Linked DNA regions of Homo sapiens: regions 1 and 3 are each linked to region 2. Evidence: fine-mapped expression QTL. A gene starts in region 2. Each other region holds a variant in brackets. All regions are shown on one strand. Distances are between the middles of the regions. Region 1 overlaps PHF2 (PHD finger protein 2). Region 2 holds the start of PHF2 (PHD finger protein 2). Region 3 has its middle 88 kb from the start of MIR548AU.

Region 1 (4,143 bases), 54 kb before region 2:
AAGACCAACTGGGGCATCATAGCCTCTGGGCACAGTGTACACTCACTTCAAATCTGAGCATGCACACTGGTGGAAGGTGCTAGAACTGTGTACCTTTGTCCCTGATGGAGCACACATACTTCAGTAACAACTGAAAATCTGCTTCAGAGAATTTATATAGCACATTCAGCACACAGATGTGTGCATGCACACACATACATACAGCTGTGGACTGAATATCCATCCCACCAAAATTTATCTGTTGAAATCCTGACCCCTAAGGTGATGATTTTATGAGGTGGGGCCTTTGGGAGGTTATGAGGTCATGAGGGTAAAGTCCTCCTGAATGGGATTAGTGTCCTTATAAAAGAGACCCCAGAAAGCTGCCTCCTTCCTTCCACCATATGAGGACATGGCAAGAGGGCACTGTCTATGAACCAGAAGCAGGCCCTCACCACACACTGAATCAGCCAGCACCTTGATCTTGGACTTCCAGCCTCCAGAACTGTAAGAAATAAATTTTCTATTACTTAAGCCCTCCAGTCTGTGGTATTTTGTTACGGCAGCCTGAACAGAGTATGACATACACACAAGCACATGCACACACACATACACATGCACAAATATGTAAGCATACATGTACATGCACACACACATGTGTACAGCCAGGCAGGGGCTGGGGGTCCCACCATCTGCAACCTCAGCACTGTCTGCTAGTCTAGAATGTCTCTCCCTGGGCAGCTGGCCGTAGGAGACAGGAAGGGGAGCCTGCACTGAGGTTTTAGCTGCAATCAAGGGCAGGTTGGGACACCAGGCCTCTGCCCAAACTCCCTGCAGGGACAGGGGCAGGGTCTGGGTGAGGCAGGCACACAGGGCTCCCATGGCAGGTGGGCTGTTTCTGGGGATGTCTGGGGACATTAGAGAAATCAAAACAGTGTGCTCACCAATATGTGAAACCTGCCCAGCCCCAGCACCACACCATTGCTCTACCCCAGCCCCAACTCATGCAAGAGCCCCCAAGCAAGGACCCCTTGAAATGTATGCTGACTATCAGAAGAGGCCCCTGGCCCAGGGGTTTCTGACACTTTCTTTTCTACCAGTCTGAAAGCCTCTTCTCAAGTGATGCACACGTGTACCTCCCACACAAAAGCAACGCCACCCCAGCATCCTCCCAAGCCCAACTCAGGTAGGACCTGAGAGGGTCCTACCCCCCAGGAAAGCACCTCCTGGGGTATCCTGGCTCCAACCCTACTCTGCTCTGACACCTGCCCCCTAGGCCCCATGGGGCAGCCCCAGGTCCCCACTGGAAGCTCAGCCCTGTTTGTGTCATTCCTGTCGTAAAGACAGCTTGGCCCTGAGCTTTCTGGGTGGGCTCATTGAGGTGCCAGAAGCATGAGGATGCCCCGCTGGGCTGAACCTTCCTACCCTTTATCTGTTTTTGAGCAATAACCAGATGATAGGTTAATGAGCTTGCCGTAGGCAGATGCATTCTGAGCATAAATGCAGCCAACTACTGGGGACCAGGAGTAAGAAGGCAATTTAGGAATCCCAGAACCTCCCCACAGGCAAACTATCAGCCTGAAAGTTCAGGAAGAGCTGCTAGCTGCTAGCTTCTCCTCATCACCCGCTTGCATATTTGTTGAGGCTGTGCTGGGGATAGGGTCGAGACCTGAAACACATGCAGCCCCCACCGCTGTCCAGCAATAGACAGGAGAAAAGCATTCAGGCCTTGGGAGAGGCCAAGAAAGAGCAGCCAGGTCCTCAGAGTAGTGAGACCCAGCATCACCAGCTGCCAGGCCAGGCCTCCAAGGCTCCCTCGACCCAGCCTCAGCTCACAGAACAGGGGTGCTGGAGCCCCTTCCACCTATTGCCCGCATCCTCCCTCTGCCCCTACTGATTCCATAGGACTCATCCCACAGGGGTCCGGGGGTCTGGTGCTTCAGCTTGCAACTGGGCACTGGGAGGGGTCTCCCTTTGAAGGGGAGTGACTCAGACTGGCTGTGACCTGGAGCCAGATGCATTTCCTGCCCCACCTTGTCCAGGGCTCAGGTCAGCAGAGATGTGATCAGCTGACCCAGCCAGGGCCCATGTCCAGCCTGCAGATTCTGTGAGCACCCAAGACCCTCCAGTGAAGTGGAAACCAGAGGCCACATTAACACACGCACACCCATATCCATACCATCTGTCCTGTCTACAGGCCACACCCCTCCCGAGTCCTTGCAGACCACCACACAGCTCCCCCTCTGCAACCAGGGCTGAGGCTTGGAGCTCAAGGCTCATATAACCTCCAGCTCACCTGGCTGAACCTGCACAGGGTGAACCAAGCCTGTATCCCAGGACCCAGCACACCTGAAAGGGCCAAGAAGAAAACGAAGCCTCAGCCCTTAGGACACACAAACAGCAGGTTGTGTGGGAAAGGCAAGGGCCCTCCAAGATTCTCTGCAGAGGA[A/G]GAGGTGGGTGGCATGAGGCGGGGCTGGAAAAGGAGGGGAGGACAGAGCCCACCAACAATGCACGTGCCCAGAAAACAGACAGGCTGGGCCCCCCGTGTAGCAGTGGCTGGCTGGGCCGGGCTAGGCTGGGGGCCCCTAGAAAACCCCCGCATCACCATTTATCCAGGTCCCCAAGTCCGTGTCCCCCTAACTCAGGCTGGCCTGGCCTCTCGCTAGGCCTCAGAAGGCCCTTTGAGTCTTTGCACAGCTGCCTCTGCCAGCGGGAGCTGATCAGGAGGGGCTACAGTGGGCCTAGTGAGGCTACAGGGGACAGTAAGCTAGGCTGGCAGGGTCCCCAGGCCTAGACACTACTCAGGGCGTTTTGCCCCCAGCAACCCAGGGCCCAGGCCCAGCAGAGACCTCACCCTCCACGCAGCCCAGGCAGGGTGGATGCTGCTCTCTTCCGCAAGAGATGGCCGCTTGGGCTGCGGTACTTACAGGTGGACTTCCCATGGGTTTTCTCACAGTTTGGGCAGTGGTATATGTCGATGTCGGGCGCCTCCTCCTCTTCCACCCCAACACAGCTGAAACGAGACGAAATAGACCATTACCTAGGCATTCAGCACCCCCTCAAGCACTTTCCATCTGCGAAGCTCTAGGGAGAATCCCTGCTCATTGTCTGGGAACCTGGGCCAGATGGAGCACAGCTGTGCAGGGACAGTGTTCTACTAGGAAAGCAGGGTGGAGGGAAAGAGCTGCAGAGATGTCCTCCTGGAAAGGCCTCTGCAGCCTGGACCTAGATACAGCGTCTGGATATGCCCCACCATGAGGACCCAATGAATAGGCCATCTACCAAGCCTGCCTGGGTGAGGGTCACCAATGCCCCGTCACCCAGGGGGCAGGGAAGGAAGAGGGGTTCTCAGAGCCAGGCTGTCCCCATCACTTCACCAGGGGTAACCTGAGGGGGCAGAAAACACCAGAGGCAGCTCAGAGCCCCTCCTGTGGGCCATACCATAGCCACCCATCCAGCTCATCCTCATGGGGGCCAAGAAGAGGCCTACCAGCCTGGCCTTAGGACATGTCCAGGACTCCAGACATCATGACCACTCTTTCCTCATTCCCTCCCTGGAGTTCCTCCAGACCCCTTGCAAACCTGCTTGGAGACTTAGAACAAGAGAGAGCCACCTCCTATGCAGATGGTCGGGCTACAGGCCTTAAGCCATTTGAGGAATGAACACAAAGAGTATCAAAGGACACAACCTAAGACATCAATAAACTTCTACAGAAGCTAACCCAGCAAAATGGAAATGCTTTGTTTTATTCTGATACTTTTTTTAGTTAAAAGTGACATGAGGCCAGGCACGGTGGCTCATGTCTGTAATCCCAGCACTTTGAGAGGCCGAGGTGGGCGGATCACTTGAGGTCAGGAGTTCGAGATCAGCCTGGCCAACATGGTGAAACCCTGTCTGTAATAAAAATACAAAAAAAATTAGCCGGAGCACAGTGGCACACACCTGTAATCCCAGCTATTCGGGAGGCTGAGGTGGGAGTATTGTTTGAGCCTGGAAGGCAGAGGTTGCAGTGAGCCGAGATTGCACCACTGCACTCCAGCCTGGGCAACAGAATGAGACTCCATCTCAAACAAAAAAAAAGTGACGTGAGAATGGGCATCTGTAACATGTAAAGAAGCCCCCAAGACTAAATAAGAACACAGTGGATAATGGGCAGGGCACAG
Region 2 (4,143 bases):
TCCCTGTAGGGTTCACTTTGGCAGATGACTCTTGGTTAGATGCAGGAGAAAATGACTTTCATGGCCGAGGGAAAGCACAGCTTCTTTCAGACCCCACAGCCACCCCAAATAGGTGAGAATAAATCTGTGCTGATCAACTGCCTGTATTGGATTCAATCAGAGACCTCAAATAAGAAAAAAAGGAGCTAGAGCCTCCCCAGACATCCCCCTTTTGGGGATTTTTTGCATGGGCCAATACAGCAAATGACACCAACCAGCTCTCAGGCCAGCTCTCAGCCCCTGTCGCCTGCCTGCCCCTCATTCCTGGAGTTTTTCCCTTGGCCTCGAAGTCTAGTTCAGAACTAGCCTTCCCTTCCCAGAGGGTCCCCTAAGCAGCGAGACAAAGGTCTTCTCGCGTTCTCTCACTCTCCCTACTCTGGGCCCCGAGTGTGGGCAGCAGCCAGGAGCTGACACAGGTGCCCAGAAGGTTCTGTAGCAGAGTGACTGCGCTCGCCAGGTCAGGGCTCCGGTGGAGATGGGGGAGAAGGCAGAGGCCCCACCACTTTCAGGGCTTTTCAGGGCCAGCAGCTCAGCATCCCTGGATATGAGGAGCCTTAGAGGCTCTCACTCACTTTGGCCCGGCCATGAACTTCTCAACGGCTGCCAGTTGAGGGTGTGCATGTCAGCCCTGTTCTGGGCAGAGCCCGGTGTTCACACTCAGTCTCCCTTGCTCTAAGGGGCTTCCACAGCCCTGGGCATACCCAGGAAGGCAGCCCAGATTTCCGTGGGCATCCCCACCCCACAGAGTCCCAGGCCCTTCTAACAGCAGGGAGGTAGGACTCAGGACTGGGGCTGACAGACATAGCAGGCCCTGTCACATCCCAGCCACCCAGGTCCCCACATGTAAACTGGCAGGACTGGACTTGGGGCCACAGCCCACTCTTAAGCACCACTGACCAGTCTTGAAGACCCAGTCTTAGAACCTGCAGGAGGATCTCCTCTCTGGAAGGAGAATCCCGGACCACCCACCACCACACACCCCTCTCTTTCCCCCGGCTGCTTGCTGCCGGTGGTTTGGGACTGGAGCCCCAGAGGGCATACAGCCCTGGCCAGCCCCGGGTCCAAACACATCCCACAGGCAAAGTCAGATGCAAGAGAACCTGTTGGAGCAGTTTGGGCAACACTGTCACCTCCTCTTCCTCCTCCTCCATTTACTTCTTGGTGGGAAGGGACCTGCCCTAGGCATGGGGCCAGGTCATGGCCATCGGCAAGGGCCAAGAGGGCGGGGGTTTTCAGTGTCTCCAAGCGTTACCTCCTTCCCCCCTCCCCATCTTCCTTAGGGAGCATAAGATCATGTCAAAACCGGCGTTCCTGCCGGGAACGGAGAGGAGAGAAACGGGGAAAACTGAAGGCCAGGGAGGAGGTGGCAAAGCCACAACAAACCCCCCTTACCCAACTCACAGACACTATTCTGTCACCGCACTCCTGCCCGCGGACCTGCAGGCCTGCCGGGTCTAGCTGCTCCGCGGGGGTCCGGGAGGGGTCCTGCCCTCGGGGACAAGGTCCAAGGGAGCTCGCCGGCCACGGCGGAGGGTGGGCGCGCCGGCTGCCACCTCGCCGGAGCCCCCACGGACTCCCCAGCCCTGCCGGAGTCGGAGCCCGCCACTCGCGCCTCTCCCGGGACCCGCGCCGGGCTGCGCGCCCGCTTCTCCCGGCCCGGCCAACCCCGAGCCCGCGCGGGGAAAGTTCCTGCAACTTCGCAGGGGGGAGGCGGCGGGGGCTCCGGGCCTCGGCCTCCCTCCGGATGCCCGGCCTCTGCGGCCGCCGCGACCCAGCTGACAGGCGGCCCGGCCCGGGCCTGGAGCCCCAACTTCCCCGCGCCCCGAGCCCCGAGCCCACCTCCCGGCCCGCGGGCCTCGCTTTGTGCGCGGCGGCCAGGGGCGCCCAGCGCGGGCCCCGTGCTTGGCGCCCCCGCCCTGGGCACAAAAGGGCGCGCGGCCCGGCACGGCCCAGCCCCGACCGGGGCGCCCGGAATGCGGCGGCGGCGGCGGCGGCCCGTCCCCGAGCCGGGCCTGCGGGCGCGCAGCCGGGGGCGCGGGGCTCGGTCGGGCAAGGTGGCCGGGCCGGGCCGGGCCGAGCCGAGCAGCCGCCGCGCGCTCACCTGCCGTGGAACCAGTCCTTGCAGGCGTCGCACTCGATCATGAAGCGGGTAACGTCGTAGGGGAGCCGGCAGACGCAGTACACGGGCACCGTCGCCATGTTGCCGCGCCGCGCCGCCGCTCGGCCCCGCCGCTGCGCTGCCCGGGTCGGTCCGGGCCGGGCCGGGGGCCGGGCCGCGCGGGGGCGGCGGGGGCGGCGGGGCGCAGGCGGCGCCGCGGCCGGGAGGGGACGGGGACGGGGGCGCACGACAGCCCCCGCGCGCGCTCCCGGCCAGGCGCGTCCACACAATGCCGGGCGCGCTGGCTGGAGGGGCCGCGCCGGGAGCCGCCCGCCGGCCCGCGGGGCTCAGGGCGCTAGTGTGCGCGGGGGACGGGCCGCGCGCGGGACACAAAAGGGAATGGACGCGCGGGGGCGGCGGGCGGGGAGCCGCGGCCCCACCGAAGGGACCCCCGGCCGCCGAGCGGCCTCTACGTCAGCGCCCCGGGTGGCGCCGCCTCCGCCCGCCGGCCTGGGCCGCCGCTCCCGCCGCCGGGAAGGCGGGCTGGGGAACCCTGCGGGGGAGAAGGTGGGTTGGGGGACCCTGCCGGGGGAGAAGACGGCCGGGGGGACCCTGCCGGGGGAGAAGGCGGGTGGGGGGATCTCGAAGGTGGAAGATAGGCCGAGAAGGGCCCCCAAGGCTGAAGGTAGACCCAGGGGTCCGCGGGCGCGAAGGTGAGCTGGGGGAGCCTTGAGACTGAAAGTGGGGTGGGACCCCGGGGAGAAGGTGGGCGGGACCCCGAGGATAAGATAAGTTGGGGGAACCCGGGCAAGGCAGAAGGAGAGACGCGGGGTGCGGGAGTGGAGCCCGCAGGAGAGCCTTCCTAGTCTAGAAGGCCGACAAGCAAATACTTGGCCCTAACTTTCTTCTGACCCCCACCACGGTGGGGGTGTTCCTCCTCCTCGGCCGCGCTGCCTCCCTCCGTTCCCCACTGAGTTTCTGGTTGGGACACCACTTCCTCTTTCCCCTCATTTTCGGCTGGGGACTGCCGCCTCCCTCGCAGGATCCCGCGGACTTCCCTGATGCTCAGCCCCAGAGGAAGAGGACAGAAGCCCGGGCCGGGAGTGCGCTGGCACGGGCTGGTCAGCTCTGTTCCCTGGCATTTGAGCCCCCCAGGCCCGTGACCTAAGGGGCCGGGCTGGTCAGCTCTGTCAAGAGAGAGCTCCCTGGCATTTGAGCCCCCCAGGCCCGTGACCTAAGGGGCGAGGAGTATGGGAACCCTGGCCCCCGTGTCCAGGGAACTGAGCCCCCACGGTGGGGAGGAGAAGCGGAGGTGCGCTCTGAGGGGTCACTTGCACGCGTTCTAGAGGAGGACTTCCCTGCCTCGCCAGCGCTGCATCCTTGGGGCATCCGCGCTGGGCAGGGGCCACATCCCTGCCCGCCCTTCCTCCCTCACCCTCTTTCTCTCCCCATCCTCCCTCAGCAAAATCCGCATCGTGCTGGGAAATGTGGGCCACCCCTGCTCGGAATTCCAGAATCTCCGGACAGGAAACCTGGCTCAGTCTCCTAGCAGCATCCATGACAAGGCTCCTTAGCCCCTCAGCCCCTCACCATCACCGCCCACCTGCAGCTGCCAAGGGGCCGTTTGCTCCACCGCAGGCGGCTCAATTAAGGTCCTTCCTCCTACTGAGCCAAAATCTACCCTCAGAGTCAGCCACCCACCCCCAACAAGTGACCCCGTGGATACAGACTCAGGGCAGTGCCCAAAGCACTGGGCACTGGGGAAGGGGGCGGGGGGAGAAGTAGCTGGCCATAGAGGGAGAGGAAAGAGCAGGAGACCCCCAGCTCCCACACCTCTGGACTGGCCAGGATGGCCTGCAATAGGCCTTCCTACCTGAATTCCGGTTGTCACTGGTTCCCTTCCTCCTGGGTGAAAGCCTGGAATTTTTTTTTTTTTTTTTTTTTTACATACTGAAGTTCTGGGAAAGAAGTAACTCTTAAGCCATTGTCTACTATTATGTAGATAG
Region 3 (4,143 bases), 110 kb before region 2:
AACAGAAAGGAGCCCAAGACGGAAGGAAGGAAATACAAATGTACTCCTGGGCATGTCGCAGACCAAAGCTTCCTCTACCAAATATGTGAGTCACTGCACATTTATGTAAGATTTCCCTTTCACAAGTGGACAAAACCTCACATTGGTGTACACACATGGTACTCCTGGACAACACATGGACAAAATCCTTCCTCTTCTGGATAAAAAGATATAGGTAACAACATGGAGGTGGCCTCACACACTTATTAAATCAGCCACAATGAGCAGAAATCACCCAGCACCGCAGTGGGCTGCTCCCAGGCAGGGCGTGCTGACAAGAGGGCTCTGTGGAGCTGCCGGCCCCTTTGGCAGCCCACCCTTCCCAACCAGGCAGCCTGAGAGACTTGTCCCCAAGAGCACACCGGGCAGGTGGAATCGTGGCACACCAGGCCCTCGATTCTCATTCTCACAAGACCCTCAGGAAACCAGGGGTATTGCTGTATTTTATAGGCAGGAAGTCAAGGCCCCAGGTCATACAGTGGGCAAAGGCAGCACCAGGACCTCCACCACCCACATCAGCACCAGAAGTGGGGTGCACGCTCTCTTTCTGCTCCTGCCTGCGAAGCCGGCGAGTCCATTGTTTGGTAAATGCAGTTTGCAGGGGACAAGGAGGATTCTGATTTTGGAATAGCACTGGCTGGACAGTGGGGCCCAGGGCCCAGCCTGGCCGGCGGGAGGACGATTAATGACAAGGATCCTACTTGGAGGCCGGGCGAGGGCCCAGCCAGCACCGGGTGTTTACAGCTCGCTCGTCTGTTTGGGGCCTGCAAATCCGTGTCAGATGTTAATGGAACAGCATCATTTTTCTACCGAGGTGGCATCGCTGGGGTTGTTTGGATGAGGCAACGGTGGGACTCGGCCTGGAAGAGGGTTCAAGGGCAATGGGTGGCTCAATGGGGCAGCTGGGGCTTGCCAGGGGGCATCCATCAGGCATCCGCAGCCCAGCTGGGCCCCTGAGGGCACCCCACCTTGCACCCCAGTCACCACAGCCAGTCCCTCTGGCCACAGGGCTCTGCAGACAAAAACTTTAAGTTGCGGCCAAGAAAAAAATGTACTGCAAAATGTGAGAAAGAACCGAAAACTGGAAATCAGTAAGTGTTTAAGCATCAGTACAGGCCTGAGGTCCAGGACATGGTTTCCCCTGCACCTCCTACTGTGCTTCAGTGCCAGGTCCACCCACGGAAGCTCTCGGGCCAGGCCTGGTCGCCCAAGGCAGCGCTGCAGGCCATCACCACTCTCGATAAGGCCTAGAGGGCAGAAGTCAAGGCCTGGGTGAGGACACCTCTCCCCTGCCTCAGCTCCAGTGGGAACCTCCCCTGCCCCTCCGGGTGGAGGCAGCCTTGCCGTCAGCAAGGCAGAGGGAAAAAAAAGAGGCCCAGAGAAGGAAAGTGACCTGCCCAAGGTCACACAGTGAGCAAGACCCTCTGAGCAGGGCTTGCAGAAGGGTAGAAGAGTGCTCCACAAGGGGCTGTTGGGAAGTGGGGGGCACACAGGGAAGCGTGGGCCCTGGAGCAACTCTATGTGGGTCAGCGCCATCACCCCCACTCTGGAGATGAGGAGGCTGAGGCTGTCCTCCAAGGCCACACAGCCAGGCTGGGCAAGGACCTGCCAAGGGCTTGAGGGGATGAAGCCTCCCTCTAACCCTGGCCCTGCTGGCTCTCAGTGCCCTCTCCTCACCTAACTGCCTCCTGGCTCTTCCCCAGCAAGCTGGCTCCTGCCTGAGGGCCTTGGCACAGGCTGTCCCCTCTGCTTACACTCTTCTCTCAGGCT[C/T]TCAAGGCTCTGCTCAAAGGCCCCCCAGGCCAGACTGTCTAAGCCTGCCCAGCCCATGACCCAGCCCTGTTCCCTCCATGGGCCGGGGCTTAGGGAGCATGCTAAGTGGTCAGCCAGCCAGAGGAAAGCTTGTAGTGCCCTGCATAGCACACAGTAGGTGCTCAGGAACTGTGACCACACTGGCCACAGGGTCACTGGACAAGACCAGCGGTATTGGACCCGGATATCTGAGACCTTCCGTCTGAGTACTTATGTCACCGTCACCACTGGGAATTATTATTAAGGAGACTGTTTTCGCGAAGACTGGAACACAGCTTGGATTTTAAAATCAGCAACATCTCTCTCTCTCTTTTTAACCCTGTACCGTAAGCCCTCTCAACTCTCCCTTCCACACTACCCTCCAGCCTCTTGATACTGCGAACAAGGAGGGCAGAGACCCTTGGCAGCCATATGTCTTTGACAAGACCTGCCTCAGTGTCACCATCCACAAATCAGGCTCCTTGCCCAGGGCTGTGCAGAGTCTGGGATGGGCACAGAGCTCAGGCTAGGCTAGGCTGGGGCAGGCAGGGGAAAGAGACCTGCCTATCTAGGGGAAAGGGGTGGTAAAGAGAGAGCCGCTGTGGAGACAGCGCTGGTGCCCCTTAGCTGAGCTCCGAGCTACACCCTGCTCTTCCACTGGCTCAGGCCCTCGCTGCAGCCATACACCTCAGGGCCTTTGCTCCTGCACCGCCCCTTGCCCCACACCCACAGCCCTCCTTCCGCAGGCCTTGCAAGCTGCCTCCTGGCTGCTGGCTGCAGAATGTCTCTCTGCAGGTCTCACTTATAAGCCCAAAGGCCCTGGAGCTGACCTGCTTGGACGTAAATTCCTGCTCTAGCAGCTGAGAGACTCTGTGCCTCAGTTTCTTCATCAGTAAAATAGAGACGCTCAGGGGATCTCCCTTGGGGGGCGACTGTGAAGCATGAACAAGGTAACAGAGCACATGTGCATCAATGACTAAGCTGAGCTGATTTTTACTGTCGCCTTCCTTCCCAGCACTCACAGCATGCTTGTTTTTTTGTTGTTGTTGTTGTTTTGGCCCATAGTTACCATCACGCCTGCCATTAGCCCTTAAGTCCCAGCACCCGCCCCAGCCCCAGGCACTAAATAACCTCACACAATTGTCCTCCTTGTTCCCGGCCCTGCCCTGCCCCCCGGTGGTTATTCTGGGTATGGCCCCAAAGGTTCGCAAATTGAACCCTGTTTTGCCAACTGCAGGTTCAGGGACCGGCTCTGGGTCCAGCCGGGGCGAAAGGATGTGGGCACATATATAGGCAGGGTCCTGCAGAATAGACTGACCTGGCCGAGTTTCTGAGCTCCCCACCAGGCATGGAGATGATGGGCACATGGCAGGGGCAGGGGAAGAGTCCCTCGCCTCTGGCCAACCAGCAGCAGGCTGTAGTCCTGGAGAGCTCACTCCACCTGCTCCCGAACTGCGGGGCTCCCCAAGGGCCTGACGCATCCCTCCACTGTGACGGTGGCCCCAGGGCCCTGCTCTGAGCCGCTGCAGACTCTCCTTTCTGTTCAGCCCACAGGGCCCATGTCTGACAACCCCAGGGTCTTGCTGCCTGCCTCTACCTCTGCTCATGTTGCTAGAAACATCACTTTCTATGGTCAGCTCCAGGCGCCCCTGGAGACCTGCCCTTCCCACCTGGAGGCATGTCTCCCCCACACGCTGTCCTGTGGTCCTGTGATCCTGTGGTCCAGGCGGCAGGTGTGGGTCCCGCTCTACCGTGAGCAGCGGGTGCCTCTTCTGAACCTCGGTGGACTCCTGGGCAGAACTGGCTGATGATAACACCTGCCCCAGGTTGTCAGTCATGGTGAAGTCTGGGGCAGGTTCTCCACACAGTCTCGGACACACAGTAGCCACTCAGTAAACAACTGTGGAATCCAGCGAGCTTTGGAGGGCGGGACCGGGGGCAGTTTGCTTGTGTGTGTTCACTGCACTGCGCACTGAACTTGCTCAGGCCAAGCTGGGCAGGCTGCAGGGACAGACAGGCCTGAATCTCAGAGGCGTGACCCACAAAGTCCGCTGCTGGTCGGCAGCTCCCTCCCAGACCTCACCCTCCCAACTTCACTGTCATAGGGCAGTCAGCACCGACACCAAGGTTAGGGGAAGAGCCACAGCTAGGGGCATGCTTGGGGCCACATGGGCCCCTGGCCTCCCGGCTGCAGGCGCACACCCAGAGATGCATGTCCAGGTCTGTGTGCCGCACACCTGGGCAGGATCCTTGCATGACACTTGGCTCACAGGCTGCCTGGCACTCAGTGGGGGCTGGGCTCGAGACACTGGGCCG

Evidence for each region. PIP is the estimated chance that this variant, and not a neighbour inherited with it, causes the effect. A credible set is the group of variants that fine-mapping cannot tell apart.
Region 1: its variant is the best candidate, but not a certain one, in a credible set for the expression of PHF2 in whole blood (INTERVAL, PIP 0.79).
Region 3: its variant is the best candidate, but not a certain one, in a credible set for the expression of PHF2 in lung (TOPMed, PIP 0.83).

Annotation. Positions count from the first base shown.
Region 1 is chr9:93,628,819-93,632,961 of GRCh38, reverse strand. It overlaps PHF2 (PHD finger protein 2), which reads right to left. Exons shown (of 22, transcript NM_005392.4): 2 at 2,907-2,992. Among named protein-coding and RNA genes, the nearest start is that of MIR548AU, 36 kb to the right of the region's middle. The variant A/G (reference allele first, on the strand shown) is at 2,429.
Region 2 is chr9:93,574,869-93,579,011 of GRCh38, reverse strand. PHF2 (PHD finger protein 2) reads right to left here and starts at 2,428. Exons shown (of 22, transcript NM_005392.4): 1 at 2,141-2,428. The coding sequence starts at 2,238. RefSeq lists enhancers at 639-788, 2,970-3,249, 2,931-3,525, 3,526-4,121 and silencers at 1,650-1,809, 2,400-2,699, 2,810-2,869.
Region 3 is chr9:93,681,188-93,685,330 of GRCh38, reverse strand. No RefSeq gene overlaps it. Among named protein-coding and RNA genes, the nearest start is that of MIR548AU, 88 kb to the right of the region's middle. The variant C/T (reference allele first, on the strand shown) is at 1,810.